2 separate regions of the Homo sapiens genome follow, and region 2 is linked to region 1. A link means that fine-mapping ties the variant in region 1 to the expression of a gene that starts in the linked region. Tissue or cell type: whole blood. Region 1 holds a variant in brackets; the other region holds the start of a gene. All regions are shown on one strand. Distances are between the middles of the regions.

Region 1 (8,453 bases):
ATAAGGTTATTGAGTAACCTATAAGGCTGCAGGGTTGGAGTGGGGTCCAGAGAAAAGGAAAGTTTCCAGGTGGTCCAGAATGAAAGGCAAGCAGCTCTGCCACATGGCCCTGATAGCCCAGCCGATCCCAAGATGGCTCAAGTGTCTGCGGCAGATGGGATGGTATTTGAACCCATGGCAAACTCTGATAGAAGAATCAAAATGGAGTATCTACAATTTAGGAGTGAAGCCTGGTGCTCCTTAGCAAGCAGTTTTCCTCCTTTTGGGGAAGGACTCTTGGCTCACTGCTGGCTGGGCTTAGCTGACAGTGGTCTCAGTGTGGGAGGCACCAAGGGATTGTGAAAGTAATTAATGACTGTAACACACAGTGTGTTCTTTTCTCAGGGATACTTGGGTTATATGTGCTCAGTGGTTGCTAAATGAGATGTCAGTAAATTATGCATCAGGTATGAAAACACACTTGACTTCTCTCCTTTCTTATCCCCCTTATCCGAAATCGGGCTTCTGTTTCTTCTACTCTAGAGAGTCTACAATTGCCAAAGTCAGTGATCTCTTTATTGCTACTTTAAAAAAAACTAATTTCAGCCGGATGCAGTGGCTCATGCCTGTAATCCCAGCACTTTGGGAAGCCGAGGCGGGCAGATCGCGAGGTCAAGAGATCGAGACCATCCTGGCCAACATGGTGAAACCCCATCTCTACTAAAAATACAAAAAATTAGCTGGGCATGGTGGCATGCGCCTGTAGTCCCAGCTACTCGGGAGGCTGAGGCAGGAAAATCACTTGAACCTGGGGGGCGGAGGTTGCAGTGAGCCGAGATCACACCACTGCACTCCAGCCTGGCAACAGAGTGAGACTCCATCTCAAAACAACAACAACAACAAAAAAAACTAATTTCGCGCCTATGAAAAAAATTCCAACATACATGACAATTAAATAATAGTACACATAGCTGGGCACGGTGGCTCACGCCTGTAATCCCAGCACTTTGGGAGGCTGAGGCGGGCAGATCCTGAGGTCAGGAGTTCAAGACCAGCCTGACCAACATGGTGAAATCCTGTTTCTGCTAAAAATACAAAAATTAGCTAGGCGTGGTGGTGTGCGCCTGTAGTCCCAGCTACTCGGGAGGCTGAGACAGGAGAATCACTTGAACCTGGGAAGCGGAGGTTGCAGTGAGCGGAGATTTCACTACCACACTCCAGCCTGGCCGACAGAGTGAGACTCCATCTCAAAATAAATAAATAATAGTACCCATCACAAAACTTCAATATGTAACGACATTTTGCCCATTTTGTTCAACAGATTCTAAATCCATATTGCAGGGAAGCCGTTATGGTCTCTAACCCTGTTAACTCTTCATCCTTGATGTCTTCCCCAAGGTGACATTCCTTTCTAGTTTTCTTCTGACTCCTCTGCTGCTTTAGGGCAGCCTCCACTTGGGGGCTCCTTCTTTTGCCTGTCCCCTGAATGTGGGTGTTTCCCAGCGCTCTGACCTGACCCCATCCGTCTCTCGCTTTCCACACTCCTGCTGGGTAAACTCACCCTCTCTCATAGCCTTTTTACCTTCTGTGGGTTGGCGAGGCTCACATTTCAATGAGGTCTGCATCTCCGCCTTCAGCTCAGACCCTTTTCCCAGTCTCAGACCACCATGTCCAGAAGTCTGGACACCAAATTGAGTCCATCCTCCTGCCAAAACAAGCTGTTTCCTGGATTCCCATTAATCCACACAACAATAGAGATCTACTCATATTTATTAGATACCAATTTTTATGTAAGAAAAAAATGTAAGATTCTGGAACAAGCCAAAGAAATTACTGCTACATGAAAAAGATGGACAATAACAAGTGTTGGTAAGGATGTGGAGAAACTGGAACCCTCCTACACTGTGGGTGGGAATGTAAAACAGTGAAGCCCTGGCCCACCCAGAACCAGAATAAACGCCGTAGAGGATTTTTCCCCTTTTCCCCCCACTTCAAGAGATGGGCTCTTGAGCACAGTAGAATGATCAGAGCTCACTGCAGCCTTGAGCTCCTGGGTTCAAGCCTCAGCCTCCGAAATAGCTGGAACTACAGGCATGCACCACCACACCCAGCAGAGGATGTTGAACTGATGGCCCAAGGTGGAGAGGGAGTGAAAGTGCAGGTGCTTTGATGGATGAGGGATGGAGTGGCTTCCCTCCGGGAATGAAGGTGTGCAGAAAGGGCCACGCGCCTGCGGGCTGGGTTGCAGGGCCTCTGAGGGATGGGCTCAGATGTGGAAGCTATAGGAATGCCTGGGCAAACTGGGCAGAAATACCACAACCTGGGCAGGCTTTGGGAGGTCCCCAGCCAAGCCCTAGGGAGAGGGAGAGGGGCTGCCAGCCCCCCGGCTTGGGCTCAGGGAAGCCATAGTGATTCTTCTCAGGATGGCCTGAACCTCCTGGAATTGTGATAAGCCCCAAAGACAGGATGAGGCTCCAGGAAAATGACTAATATCAGATTTCCTGTCAACCGTGGCAACGAGAGAAGGGGGCTCCCAGTCTATTTAATTAGATTTACCAAAATAAAGACGTGGCATTTCTTACACCTGAGTGCCATGCTGTGATGCATAGACTGAATTACAAATTGTGAGATGGGTGAGGTAAGAGGGGGTGGCCATAGAGATAGTGAAAAGTGGGCAAATTTGCTATTTAGCAGGAAGGCCAGGCAGGTCTTACTGATAGTTTGGAAGCTGAGGGTCGGAGACTGGTACTGAAAAGGATTTCCCGGTTTCTGGCTGAGAACTGGGTCAACCCGAGTGCATTCCCACCCACTTCCTCTAGACCATCCATCCACTCAGCGGCACAGACTCCCGAAAGTGTCGCTCCAGTCCGAGTTGGCTCCTGTCCCTTGTCCACATAGACCGTCTCCCCGCTCCCCCAATATGGCACAAGGTGCCTAGGCCGTGTGGGGCGTCGGCAGGTATCACGGGTGGGGTCCATTGTGTGAGGACTAACATCGCGGCCTTTCCCCAGACCAGCCACCGGGGACTCCAGAGAGGCCTCGGCCCAGCTCCCGGAAAGGGTCTCCCAGCCAGGCCTTCTAGCGGCCCAAAGCGGGTAGGCAGAGCGCAGATACCGGGGCCTCTTTCGCCCACCCTCGCCAGGGCACTATCCTTCCCACCGGCCCGATCCCGCGTCCCGAGGTCTCGCGGGGCCAGGCTGCACGGG[C/A]GGCGGAGCCCGGAGCCCGGGGCGGGGCCGGAGATGAGCCTGCAGGCGGGGGGCTGTGCGAGTGCGCGGGGACGGGGGCTGCTGTTTCCGAGCCGAGAGCCCTGGTAGCGGGGCTCTGTGGGCGGAGACGCCCTCCCGAGCCTGGGCATCTTCGGAGTGGGACTCTCGGGTCGGAGTTCCGCCGCCGGCCCATCCAGTTTCAGCGGGTCGCCTTTGCCTCTGGGCCGGGTGGGGAGCCTCCCATTCCAGAGACCCCCCGACTCCCTGCCCCTCGCGGCGTAGGGGCGCCCTTTCTGCGGCGCCGCGGGGCCGTCCTCTCCCCTCCCCGGGCGGCTGCAGCAGGGGCGCGGGAGCCCGCGGACTGCGGGGTTGCGGTCGCCCCTGCTTTGTGAGTTCCCGCAGCTGGGAGGAAGAAGGAGAGGAGGGAGGAGGGAGAGGTGGGGAAGGGGACGCCGCGGGAGACTGGGAAGTGGCTGCCGCAGGGAGGAGCTAGGCCTCGAGTGAAGCCTGCTTGTAAGAAGGGCCAGGAGAGTCGGGTGCGCCCCCGCCCTCCCTGCCCCACCCCAAGATGGGGACCCAGAGCCCCTCCTCCCGCACTGGGCCTTCTTTCTGGGTAGTGGAGGGCTGGACTGGACTGAGCTGGGAAGGCCTGCAGCTCAGAGGCGCTGCTCTGTGCGTCAGGACCGGCTTGCAAATGAAGATGTTGAGGGGCTGGCTCTGGGCTCATAGCAGAAACTGCCAGATCTAGCGGCCACCCCTCAGTCCTCATCTGCGCCGGCCCTCCCAGCTTTCGACCCGGCCTCACTGTCTCCTGATTGAATCACTCCGGGCACCACAGTTCCCTGGTTCCTCCTTACAGCTCCGGGCCAGCCCCTCTGAACTTTTTCTGGGCGATTCTCTCTGACCTCTTAAGTCCGCAACGCTTGGAACAGGACCCACATCTCTTTCCATTCTGACACTCTCTGAGGGAGCGCAGCGTCCTTCATGTGGGGCTTGTGACCATCCTCCCCCCAGCCCCAGGGCAGCTGACTACCAGGCCCTGTTTCCAGACGTCTCTTCAGAGGTCAAGCCTTGGTAGCCAGTGGCCTGGACATCTGCCCCCGGGTGTCTCGGAGGCCCTCAGGGAAACCTTGTTCTGCTTCTCAGAGATGGCGCCACGGTTCGCTTGGCCTGTGGAAACGTGTGTGTCATGGGACCTGGTGTGTGGGTCAGAGGAAGGACTGGGAGGAGGAGGAAGGTGTCCACATGCGATTTTTTTTTTTGAGACAGAGTCTCGCTCTATCGCCCGGGCTGGAGTGCAGTGGCTAGATCTCAGCTCACTGCAATCTCTGCCTCCCAGGTTCAAGCGATTCTCGTGCCTTAGCCTCCCAAGTAGCTGGGATTACAGGTGCCTGCCACTACACCCAGCTAATTTTGGTATATTTAGTAGAGACAGGGTTTCACCATGTTGGTCAGGCTGCTCTTGAACTCCTGACCTCAAATAATCCACCCACCTCGGCCTCCCAAAGTCCTGGGATTACAGCCGTGAGCCATCGAGCCCGACCTTCACACGCAATTCTTTAGCCTCAATGTGGCCTTGTCTTATCTTCAGGTTTCTGACTATTGGAGCTCATATGGCAGCAAGCTCTGAGGGCTACTTTTGTGTTGGGCCAAAAAAAGCCAACCTCACTGTGAAGAAACGTCTCTCTCTCTCTTTCTCTGTGTGTGTGTGTGTGTGTGTTTGTGTGTGTATAGACAAAACCCTAGTGCTGTTGGGAACGGGGTGAGGAGGCAGGCTTGGGGCCAGTTGGATGGGGAAGGCTTGCTTAGAAAACTAGACTATTTGGGTGTCCTCCATACTGTATTTCCTCTGATGATTTTCCTGTAAGAACTGAGCTGAGCTCCTTTGAAAGGGATAGCAGTATTCCTTGGGAGCCAGCTTTGGTGGGGGCAACTGGTGGAGCCTCCACCCTAGCTTCTTGGGGGCTCTGGGCTTTGAAAGGGAGGCTGTAATATGGCCTTGCGGCCCCTGCCAGTGGCATCCCGGCCGGACCCATCTTTGACTGAGGCTGAGCCCCAGGCCCGCTGGCAGCTCCCAGCCGTCCTCCCCACAGCCTGGCTGTGGCTGTTCCTCGGCCTGCCAGCCCCACAATCACAGCCCACAGGACGCACCCCCACTCCCTCCCTGATTTCCTGGAATTCAGAAAATGGATCACCCCTGCCTCGTCCTAGTTTTCCACCCCAGAGACCTGCCATACCCTTGGTCAAGTCCTCATGCAAACCAGATTCCTTTCATTCAAGGACTTTCAGAGGGAGCGTTACCCGGTCCTCAGCCACACCCATGCCGCCCTGTCTGCCCTGTCTGGACTGCCTAGACTCCATCAGAACTCCACAGCCACTTTCTCTGGAAAGCCTTCCTGGCTGCTCTTGCCAGGTGTTCTCTCTTCACTGGCCTCTCAAAGCCAGGTCTTGACTTGTCCTAGGGCCTCATCCCATACCATGTTTTATTGTCATAATATTCTTTCCCATAGTGACCCCAGTGCTCAGCACTGAGCCTGGCACAAAGTGCATGCTAAGGACAAGCTTGCTGCACGGAGAAATGAATGGGGACTTCAGATATACATACACACACACACACATATATATATACACGTATATATATATATATATATATATATACGTGTATATATATATATACGTGTATATATATATATACACACACACATACATACATACACATACACACGCTTTTTTTTTTTGAGACCGAGTCTCGCTCTGTCGCCCAGGCTGGAGCCAGGCTAGAGTGCAGTGGCACAATCTCGGCTCATTGCAACCTCTGCCTCCCAGGTTCAAGTGATTCTCCTGCCTCAGCCTCCTGAGTAGCTGGGTTTACAGGTGCCTGCCACCGCACCCAGCTAATTTTTTTATTTTTAGTAGAGACAGGGTTTTTACCATGTTGGCCAGGCTGGTCTCGAACTCCTGACCTCAGGTGATCCACCCACCTAAGCCTCCCGAAGTGCTGGGATTACAGGCGTGAGCCACTGTGCCTGGCTCTAGGTATATTCTTTAGAAGCTCTCAGTTGAGCTGTCATGGATATTGAATGAGGATTAGCAGGTGTTAGGTTATACAGTGTCCTGAGACTTATGATCAGAGCCTGGTTTCCTCAAGAAGTTTGACCCCTGGATGAGCTTTAAGGCTGAGCTCTTGGCAAACAACTGTCATCCAGAATTCCCCTGTGCCAGGTGGGTCCCTGCTCCTGTTTCATCTGCAGGCTTCAACTCAGCTACCCAGGGCTCAGCCTGCTGGGATTTGGCACCTCTTGTGAGGCTGTCATGGTATCTGACCCTTGCCTTATCCTGCCCACCTCCGTGATGGGGTCCTGTTTCCATCTAGCATCGCCTACCCACTCCCATCTCATGCTGACAACTCACAGGAACTGGTGCTTCTCAGACCCCTCTGGTCCAGACGGGTGAATGCAGAGCCTGACAGGCCCACCTATACACATGTATGCACCCCTGCCCAACAGAGACAGAGAGAAACATTGCTGAGCCAGAGGGACCATTTTTATTAGATTCCAGCAAGACTACTGTACATGTTTCATGCAGATTAAATATGTGTCTTCACTGCCCCTGGGAGGGGAGCACTCTCACTGTCAGCTCCTTCATTGGTGTGTCAAGGGGTGAGTGTCAAGGGGAGCTCTCAATGTATTCCGTATGGGGGGCAGTTGGGATCATGACTCGGGGTAGAGGTGAGACAGTAGGTAGCTGAGGGTCCCTGGGACCTTGAGTCTTCAGAGGTTCAGGGACTGCAGGACCTTGGTCCTTTGCTGGTACTGGCACCAGAGGATCTTGATCCTTCAGAGGCACTGGGACTATAGGAACTTGATTCTTCAGAGGTTCAGGGACTATACGACCTTGATTCTTTGGAGGCTGTAGGACTGTGGGGCCTTGATCCTTAACTAGTACTGGGAGAATGGGGTCTTGATTCTTCACGGACTCGGGGACCACAGGACCTTGATTCTTTACAGGTGCCACAACTGCAGAATCGTGAACCTTTGCATGCTCTGGGACTACAACATCTTGATCCTTGACTGGCCCTGAGACCACTAAACCTTGATTCTTTACAGGCTCAGAGACCATGGAACCTTGATTCTTTATGGGTGCTGTGGCCATGGCACTTTCATCCTTCGGATGCTCTGGGACCATGGGATCTTGATCCTTGATAGGTGCTGAGACCATGGGACCTTCATCCTTGACAGGTGCTGGGACTATGGGACCTTCACCCTTGACAGGTGCTGGGACTATGGGACCTTGATCCTTGACAGGTGCTGAGACCATGGGACCTTGATCCTTGACAGATGCTGAGACCATGGGACCTTCATCCTTGACAGGTGCTGGGACCATAGGAGCTTGATTCTTCACAGGCTCAGGAATCCTAGGACCTTGATCCTTTAGAGACTCTGGTACCACAGAGCCTTGATCCTTAACTTTTGCTGGAACCATAGGACTTTGATTCTTTGGAGGAACTGGGACCGAGGGACCTTGGTCCTTGACTGGTGCTGAGATAACAGGGCTTTCATTCTTTAAAGGCTCAGGGACCGTGTGATCTTGATCCTTGACTGGTAATGGGATCATGGGACCTAGATCCTTTGGAGGCCCTGGGACCACAGAACCTTGCTTCTTCAGAGGCTCTTGCACCATAGGACCTTGACCTTTCAGAAGGCCTGGGACCACAGAACCTTGATCCTTGTCTGGCTCTGTGGCTACAGGACCTTGAGTCTTACTTGAATCACTGACGGGTTGAGCCAGGCTCCTGCAAAGGAGAGAGAGGTGATCACTGTGAGAGTAGAGCTCAGGCAGGGACAGGGCAGAGTACAGATTGCCTAATAAGTCTTGGCCTAGTGGAGCCTGGGCCGGGCAGCTCTTGCTGGAGAGCCAGGAGAATATGATTTCTGTGTTCTTAGTACAGAATGTGGGCGGGGGTGAGGGAGGGGGGTGAGGTGAAGGCTCAGGAATCAGTCATTCAATGTGCTTGCCAATTGATTATAACCTGCACGTGGCACAGGGGGTGGCACGCTGGTGACAATGGCAGTACTGTAGCTGGACTCGGAGTCATCCAGTAGGCATCCCAGCAGCCCGTCCACCCCACATTCCATCCAGGTCCCTACTTTTTCTTCTAGGATCGTTGGGCCCATCCTGGGAGCCCCATCTCAGCTGCCCACCAGATGCCCCCACAGGCCAGGGTGCTCTTTTCTTGTTCTCAGGGCCTTCAAAGTTCTTTTGCCTCCC
Region 2 (8,453 bases), 23 kb before region 1:
TGTTAGCGTCGTGTGTATGTGCAAGGTGAGGTGTGACTGGAACTGATGGGACAGCGCTCAGAGGACAGAGCAGGAATGGTCAGAGGACAGGGAAGGAATGGTCAGAGTGGCGTCTACGGGTTGTGTAAGATTTGACCAGTTGGTGAAGATGTGAGCAGAGGTGTGGAGTGGAGAGCCTAACATCACTTAGTGTTCACAAAGTCCTCTGCTATTCATTATTTTATCTGTGTGTCTCATCATCCTGCAGACTATCAGTCCTATTTTACAGAGGGGTAATTTAAATCATGGGTACATAGCCAAGAAGTGGCAGACCTGGGGCAGGATCCCAGGTCTCCTAACCCCCAAGTGAGGGCATTTCACACTCCATAGCACAGCAGGGCTGAACTGGGCTGAAGCAGATTAGAGGTGGTTTGGCAGGGTGTAGGGGGTGGTCAGAGCTCAGGAGTCCCTTTTCTGAGTGTCAGGGATGCTAAGACAAGGGAGGACAGCCCTGTAGCCCACCTGGGCATCACTGTTATTACAGGCTCAGCAGCACCTAAGGGAGAGGAGAACAAGACGGGAAGGGAAAGGCAGGGCTGTAGTTAACACACATCCTCCATCCCACCAGCCCTTCAGGCCTGGTCTTGCAGGCACTGGAGCTGGTTCCATGGGTTGCCAGAGGAAGCCTGAGAGAGGGAGGCTGGGAGAGGGGGCGGGGAACCTGATCCTGTGTATATGTCAATACCCAACAAAAACTTGTGTAGGGGGGTGGGGTGCATTTGGGTTACTGGAGTTACACAGACATGTGTGTACATGGATTGTGTGAAGGGGCTGCTCAAGTGCCGTGTGTGCACCATGTATGTGGGTGCACATACGCCTGTGTATATAGCGAGTCAGTGGGCTTGTGTCTCCTGGGTATTGTGCCAGGCATGTGGGTGAAGGCGCTGGAGTTCCTATGTGGCTTCGCTCAGCACCAGGATTGCAGACGGGTAGGGGCGGGCCTGCTCTGGGAGGAGGAGGGGAGGAATCATGTGCCCACCCACCCCCACATGGACCGGCTGCCCACCCTCCAACGTGGCAGCACGCAGGACAGCCCTTTTTGGATGGAAGGCCCCACGCTCCAAGAGAGAGAATCCAAGATTACAGAAATCGTGTTTTCCTGACTCATGCCTTGGGCTGAGAGCACATTCTTGGCTCCTGGACAGCATCTCAAAGAAGAGCTGCCTATAGCAGCCCTGGCTCCCTGAGGGAGGGGGCCGACCCTGGACTGGCTGTCGGAGCTTTCTGGGCTCCAATTTTATACCAATGTAAAAAGAAGGGGATTAAACTTCCTTCCGATTAACGTTCTATAATTAAAAGTGAGACACTAATGACGGTGCCCAGCACAGGCCTGGCAGCGGCAAAATGGCCCATAAATGTCACTTCCTTCTCGTCCACTCCCTGCCTTCCCGTGGATATGGCATAAACAGACCTGATTCAAAACCCAGCTCTGACTCTGGCTTGTTGTGTGCCCTTAACCCTGTTGCTTAGTCTCCCTGATCCTCAGTTTCTTCATGCTGAAAATTGGAACATTCTTCCTTACCTGAAAGGAATAAATATGATAATAAATGTGAATGTGTTGCACACTTAAATGACATGCAAGTTTTTGTCCTAGGATTCTATGGGGTGAAGACTGAGTGAATCTAGCCACTGGGGCCAAAGAAAGCTGTTTCCACAGCACCTGGCAGAACTGGGCCTACATACCCCCCTGGGTCATTAGAGGGTACTGTGGGAGAAAGAGGGCTGGGAGTCCAGGGCTTAGGCTCCAGCCCAGCCCCACCTCTGATATGCTGTGTGACCTTGGGTAAATTCCTGCCCTCTCTGGGCTTCCGTTGTCCTCTCTGTATAGTGTGGATGCAGTTGGACTTGATGGTTTTCTACTTTCTGCTGTCCACACCTCTCGGGACCTAGGGATCTAGAGGATTTCCAGCCAGCCTCCACGTGCCAGGCACCAGGACCACTTCCTTCAGTGAAGCGAGGCACTGGAGGAGTCCAGAGACAAAATGCTTGAGAGTTTCTCTGCTTATCAGACTCTTCTCCCCCACCCCCTAAAAGAGTGCTTTTTCCGGAAAGCTCTGCCTGGAATGTGGGGGAAGGGCCACAGTCAGTCTGGGCTGGGCTCAGAGCTAAGAATATTGTGGCAAAGGCTCTTGACTTTTTTTTTTTTTGCTGATCTTGGAAATTTAAAGGAGCCGTTGCTTTCCCTTCTTCAGGGAGGCTGTGCTAGGGGCACAGCAGCCTCAGGCAGCCACTTCTCATCCCCTGGCCAGCCATGCTTACCCAGTGCCTCTTCCATACTGTCCCCTTGCTGGAGCTGGGGACTCACAGTGACAAGGAAAAGGCCCTGCCCTTCCAAAGTCTCCAGTGATGGTTCACTGACAATACAGGGTGATAACAGAGATAATGCAGCAGTGGGATAGGTCACAGAGGAGGCTTCTGACCCGGTGTGAGATTAGTGGGGGTCGGATGGGGGTTGGGCCTTCAGACCCAGCCCTCCTTAGGCCTCAGCTTTGCTGTCTGTAAGGGCAGGTCCTCTCTTCAGTGACCACTCATGATACTGGGTCTATTTAACAGCATGAGCTTTGGTTTATCCCTCAAAATGGGACAGTCACAGCACTCTCAGTCTCCCCCTCAGGTGTTGGTGAAGCCTAAAAGAGCTAAGAGATGTAAGAGAGTAGAGGAAGGGAGTCTCACTGGGATTGTGACATCTGAACCTGCTGAAAACCCAGGCGACCCTCTCTGTTTTGCCAGCATTGATGGGCACTCTTTGTTTCTGCTCTGCCCTGCCCTCAGCTCACTGACCAAGTCACAAGGAAGCCTGAGGGCCAATGTGGGGGTGGGAGTAGAGAGTGGGGTCTGGCCTGGGACCCGGGAGGTCTCCTTGGATAAACAAGAATTTATCTTTTTTTTTTGAGATGGAGTCTCGCTCTGTCACCCATGCTGGAGTGCAGTGGCATGATCTCGGCTCACTGCAAACTCCACCTCCCAGGTTCAAGAGATTCTCCCGCCTCAGCCTCCTGAGTAGCTGGGATTACAGGCACATGACACCACAGCTGGCTAATTTTCATATTTTTATTAGAGATGGGGTTTCACCATTTTGGCCACGCTGATCTTGAACTGCTGACCTCAGGTGATCCACCCACCTCGGCCTTCCAAAGTGCTGGGATTACAGGCATGAGCCACCGCGCCCAGCCTAGAATTTATCTTTAAAAGCAATATACAGTTGAGGCAGGAGGAAGCACATGAGAACCACGACAGCCACCCCAAAGAGATGGACACCATGCCAAGGCTGGAAGCTTTTGTTAATAATCAGACCTGTCCTAAAAAAGAATGCGGGGCTGCCTCTGAAGGAGGTAAGCTCTCTCTTCTTAGAGGTGCCTCGGTGCTTGCCTTTTTGGGATACTGAGAAGAGGGCTTCTGCCTGGGGCTGCAGACAGGAACCCCTGACCTCTGAGATGCCTTGCAGCTCAGAGTCTTTAATACATTTATTCCAGAATCCTTCGACTCTGAGATTTTAACATGTTAAGATTCCTTAGCTGGATTCAAAGACTCCTTGGGGGCTTTGAGTGGAAGTAATCTCTGATTCCTTGACCCTGAATCACAGAGTCTGAAGCTTTTGGGATCTGAGATTTCCCACAGTCCTTGTACTCAAAAGACTCTGAGCTGCAGAAGCCTACCCAGACAGAGAGGTTTGTCACCACCACCAGGCTTCCCCACAACCACTAACAGAGGGCAGGGACCCAGGTGATTGACTCATTTGCTGGGTACTGGGATTTTTTTGCTCCCCAGGATCCAGGCAAGCACCTAGAAGAAAGAAGATACTCAATGCATTCATTCATGACTGAATGAATGAAGAGTCCCTACCCTGTCCCTTCCTCTCCATACTGCGTCCATCCAATAGCTATCATTAAACTACTAAAGAGGACTTTTCGGAGGGTAGGGAGCCTCGGCTGATCAGAAATTGAGCCACTGTCGCCCAGATTATTTAGGGTTTCCTAAATAATCTGCCTCACTGAATCACTGAATTCCCTACTAACAGGTACATACCCCACAGATGGACATCGCACAGGGCAAGGACTTTGTTCAGCTCTCAGCTGTGTCCTCAGCACCTAGAACAGTAATGAATACCCTAGCTTAACTTGGAGGTCAAGGAGCTATCAGTTTGCGAGGGTGGGGTAGGAATTGACAGTGAGACCTGAGGCCTGTGGGAGGGGACCCAAAGAGGGAGGGGATGCAATAGGGAGGGGGCCAGGGGTGACAAGGATTGAGGAAGGGAGAGAGGGGGGAAAAAAAGCAAGGGATGCCTTAGAACCACATTTCACAGCCAAGGGAACAGAGGCCCAGAAAGGGAAAGTAACCTGCTTAGGGTCACACAGCACCTTGCTCAGTGGAGAGCCAGGTTTTCCTTCCTGTGCACTCCTCCAAGCCCAGCCAGACCACCTGAAGTTCCCCAGGCATCTCTGCCTCTATTACTCCACGACTTGAACTTTCCGGGTGCCGGGCAGGTACCGGGTCTGGTCTGCTCCCTCTCCCTCTGGCCATCGCTGAGGTTGAGGTTTTTTGAATGTACAAGTATGGAGAAGGGCACTGCCTTCAGAAGCCTGAACGTCTCCCCTGAGAGGGAGGGGGTGCACAGGACTCAATTGTTTCAGCTTGAAAATGGGGGAGAGCGGGGAGAAGGGGAGATGGCTCTGCTTGGGGCAGAGCCCCTGCGGGGAAAGGGGCGCCTGAAAGGACGTGCGATTCGGAGTGGGCTAGCTTATGCAGAGAGCCTGGGGGTGGGAGGAAGCTCGCACTCTGAAGGACACGCTGATCCCCGTGGGGACTCCCGGCGCCCCGCAGCCCGGGCCGCCGAGGGAGGCAGTAGGACCCAGGGGCCGGGAGGCGCCGGCAGAGGGAGGGGCCGGGGGCCGGGGAGGTTTTGAGGGAGGTCTTTGGCTTTTTTTGGCGGAGCTGGGGCGCCCTCCGGAAGCGTTTCCAACTTTCCAGAAGTTTCTCGGGACGGGCAGGAGGGGGTGGGGACTGCCATATATAGATCCCGGGAGCAGGGGAGCGGGCTAAGAGTAGAATCGTGTCGCGGCTCGAGAGCGAGAGTCACGTCCCGGCGCTAGCCCAGCCCGACCCAGGTGAGGGGCGGGAGACGCCTGCGTGCGTGCGGCCCGGGGGAGCGCCGAGCAATCTGGGGGTGCGCGAGGGAGTAAGAGGGGCGAGGGGACCCTGCGAAGCGTTGGGTGCCGAGCCAGAGCCTACAAATTGGAGTCCTCGGCACTTTGGGGGCCGCTGGAGGGTTTGGAATCGAGAGCCCAGGGCTAGCCAGTGATGGTGCCAGCTGAGGGCTAGGGCGGAGATCGGAGCCGGGTTGGGAGTCCGTGCACTCGGAGGACTGGGAAAAAGTGCAGGGACCCCTAAAAGGTGGTGGTGGCAGATACGAGACTAGGTGCTGTGTAAAGGGGGCTGGGGGCAGAGAGCAGAGCCTCTGCGGAAAGAAACAGAGGAGGAAGGAGATGGGTCTGGTGCCTCTTCCCGCAAGGGTAGGGAGGATAGGCCGGCCTCGCAGTTCCAGGTCACTTCCGTTCTGGGGTTGAGGCTCAGGGGCAGCGGTGATTGGTGGCCCAGCCTCCTCACAGGCTTGCTGAGGGAATTTGAGCTTCCGGTGGTGGGAAAGGAGGTGAAATCGTCTCGACTCCTGGGGTCCGTGTGCTCTGGTAGAAGTGGGCGACAGTGGCTCAATTTCTGATCAGCAGCTTGCAGCCTAGATGATGGCAGCCAAAGGAAAGACTTGGCCAGCGAGGCTCCCTACCACTCCGAAAAAAGAGAGTGGGGGTCAGCAGGGTCTGCTCTGCTCTGGGGATTAAGGGGCTGACTAGAAGGATTTGAGTCTTTCCTTCTGTCCACTGCCACAGGGTTCTTGGAGTAACTGCAGGGTTTAAACTGCAGGGTCTAACTTCCAGAGGCTGGGGTTCCCTGCCCCCCAGCTTAGAGACATTCCTGAGGTGGCTGAAGAGCAGGAAGGAGAATGAATGCACTTCCAGACTGGCCCAGAGTCTCAGCCCCTCCTCTTCCTTGTTTCCCGCTGGTCCCTCTGGGCTGTACGGCCCGGATGGAGGCCTGAGGAAAATGAGGGGGCTTTGGTTCTCCGGAATTCCGGCCGGGGCCACACCCTCCTGTCTTCAGATGGTTCATGTACCCATCCCCCCTTCCCGTCCTCTCCTTTGTCTCCTCTGTCACCGGGACTCCCAGCAGAGATTTTTTTTTTGTACTGGCTGTGTAACAGGACACCGCATGCAGCCCTCAGGAGGGGCTCTGTGCTTCTGTGAGGAAGGACCCCTGTGCTGGGAAGGCAGACCCCTGTTTATCCCGAGGGACCTGGGGTGACCCCCTGCCCTGGCCTTGTTTCTCCCATTTTACAGTGAGGTGGTCGATCTCCAAGGTCCCTGTAGATTGGGGACTGGTTGTGCCCTCTGCGCCAGGGGCCTCCTCACCATCTCTCCTTTGCCGGCTCCCGCCCTCTTCACTCTTCTGTTTTCTTTCAGAATGAAAAAGGCAGGCATTGACCTCCCTCTGAGGCAGTTTCCAGGTACTTTAGACCTCTCAAGTGTTTGGGACCCTCTGGTGGGGTCCCATCATCTCCTCCCCTTCCCTTCCAGACCCTGCTCAGTCCAGCTAGCTGTGGGCACAGCCCTGGCTAGGTGATCTTGTATTTTCTTTGTGGGACTGTAACTCAGCTAACCTTGGCCTGAGGGCTGGCATTTCTCTGTGGCAAGATGGGCTGGGCTGTGGGAGGCTGGCCTGCTTGCAGTAACTTGCCTTCCCCCATTCCTGCTGCTGGGTTCAGTGGGGCTGCCCTTCTCCCCAGTAGCGCATTTCCCTTCAGAGATTCATGTGCGGATGGGAAGGGAACTAAGGCCAAGAAGGCTCCTGGAGTCCCCTGGCAAATATGTGGCACCCCCTGGGACCTGAGTCAGGCCTGCTTCCCAGGCTGGAAGCCCCCCTCTGCCGGCCGGTGGAGATAGTTCAGCCTCCTGCCTGCCACGTCACCACCAGGAGCAGGCGCTAAGCTGCTGCGGGCCTAGCGGGCTGCCTGAGGAATCCCAAACCAGTTATTTGGAGCTTGCTTGAGAAGCCCCTCCCAGTCCTTTGAGGTTCTGGCTGGTGGGGGTGGGGGCTGTCAAGATGGTACCTGCCACGTGGCATGGCTGGGAGTGGGCTCTTCAGCTGCCTCCTCAGGGAAGGAAGGCTGTTGGCCTCTGCTGTGGTCTGAGCTCCAGCATCACTGGTCTGGATCAGAGGTGGCTTTTGAGTAGGGTGGCCATATGCCTATTGTCCTGGCATAATAATTAGTAGTGCCCATTTTACTCTTATAAGTGTCCTTGTTTGTGCAATAAATTATATGGTTGCTCTGCCTTTGAGGCTCCAGTTCTGGCAGGGAAGGAGCCAGAGCTGGGAGGGAGGTGTCTTGGGGTTTATTCTAGGCCCCAAGATATCCCCTTCATTTTAGGGTGAGACTCAGATCTCCCCGCTCCTTCCAGACATTTTTAGATCTCTGGGCCTTCCCTCCTCTCCCCACCTCCCTCCCCTTGGACCCTTTGCTTATCTTATACTGCACCTTCAAGGCTCCGAGGAGGGAGGCAGTCCCGGGAGATGGGGAGCCTGTCCAGGTTTTTGGGATGGCAGCAGTAGAATCTTCCCAGAAATACAGTGGTCCCCAGGCAGCCAGAGTCCTGAGGGTCTTCCACCAGGATTTCAAATGTTCGGTCTTCTTCAAGGATGACTACAAGTTGGGATCTACCAGAGCAGTGGGATCGCAGCCTCCACCAGGATTCCTTCTATCCTTCCCTTTGCCCTGTCATCTCTCCTGTGCTGTTGCATGATGTAGAGGAGGATAATGGCCCGAAGGGAGAGAGGGAGTGTGGAAGTATCCCAGGAACAGAGACTGTCCAAATTGGAGGCCCCAGAGAGGGAACTGGGGCTTGTCCTTGGGGCCACTGCTACTGCTGGGGCTTGGGGAGGAGGCCTGAGGGCAACCCTGAAGCCGTGGAGCAGATGGCCTGTGTGGCAGTGGCTGTCAGATTGGAGGGCAGAATGGAATCTGATGTGGCTCCAGCTTCTTTGAAGGCTGAGTGCACATCTGGCCAGCTGCTGGTGATGGGGAAGGGGGTCACTGCTCTATTGAGCTATGTGTGACTCACCCTTTTCCCTAGTATCCTGTCCTTGTGCTATGTCAGGAAGCCTCCTCCCCAGCCCCACCGAGTCTTCAAAGGAGTTGGTCCCCCAGGAGCTTTTGTCCTGGGGATTTCCCATCCGCACTGGGAGCACTGTGGGTAGATGGGCATTCCAAGTTCCTGCCCAGACAGAAGCCATGGGCATGGAGACCTGGACCTTTCAGCTTGGAAAAGGGAGACTGAGGCTGAGTGGACACAGGACACACACACACA

Evidence for each region.
Region 2: SERPINH1 starts here. The variant in region 1 is fine-mapped to the expression of SERPINH1 in whole blood (TOPMed, PIP above 0.99). The same link has a PIP of 0.9 or more in blood mononuclear cells and monocytes.

The regions. Positions count from the first base shown.
Region 1 is chr11:75,580,208-75,588,660 of GRCh38, forward strand. MAP6 (microtubule associated protein 6) reads right to left here. Exons shown (of 4, transcript NM_033063.2): 4 at 6,711-7,977. The coding sequence ends at 6,852. It overlaps MAP6-AS1 (MAP6 antisense RNA 1), which reads left to right and starts at 2,989. Exons shown (of 2, transcript NR_145823.1): 1 at 2,989-3,074. RefSeq lists silencers at 3,007-3,116, 3,127-3,276 and an enhancer at 4,023-4,602. The variant C/A (reference allele first, on the strand shown) is at 3,186.
Region 2 is chr11:75,557,176-75,565,628 of GRCh38, forward strand. It overlaps SERPINH1 (serpin family H member 1), which reads left to right and starts at 5,078. Exons shown (of 5, transcript NM_001235.5): 1 at 5,078-5,144. RefSeq lists cis regulatory regions at 1,069-1,299, 1,772-2,622, enhancers at 1,635-2,176, 4,758-5,297, 5,298-5,838, 5,839-6,377 and silencers at 4,814-5,073, 5,084-5,133.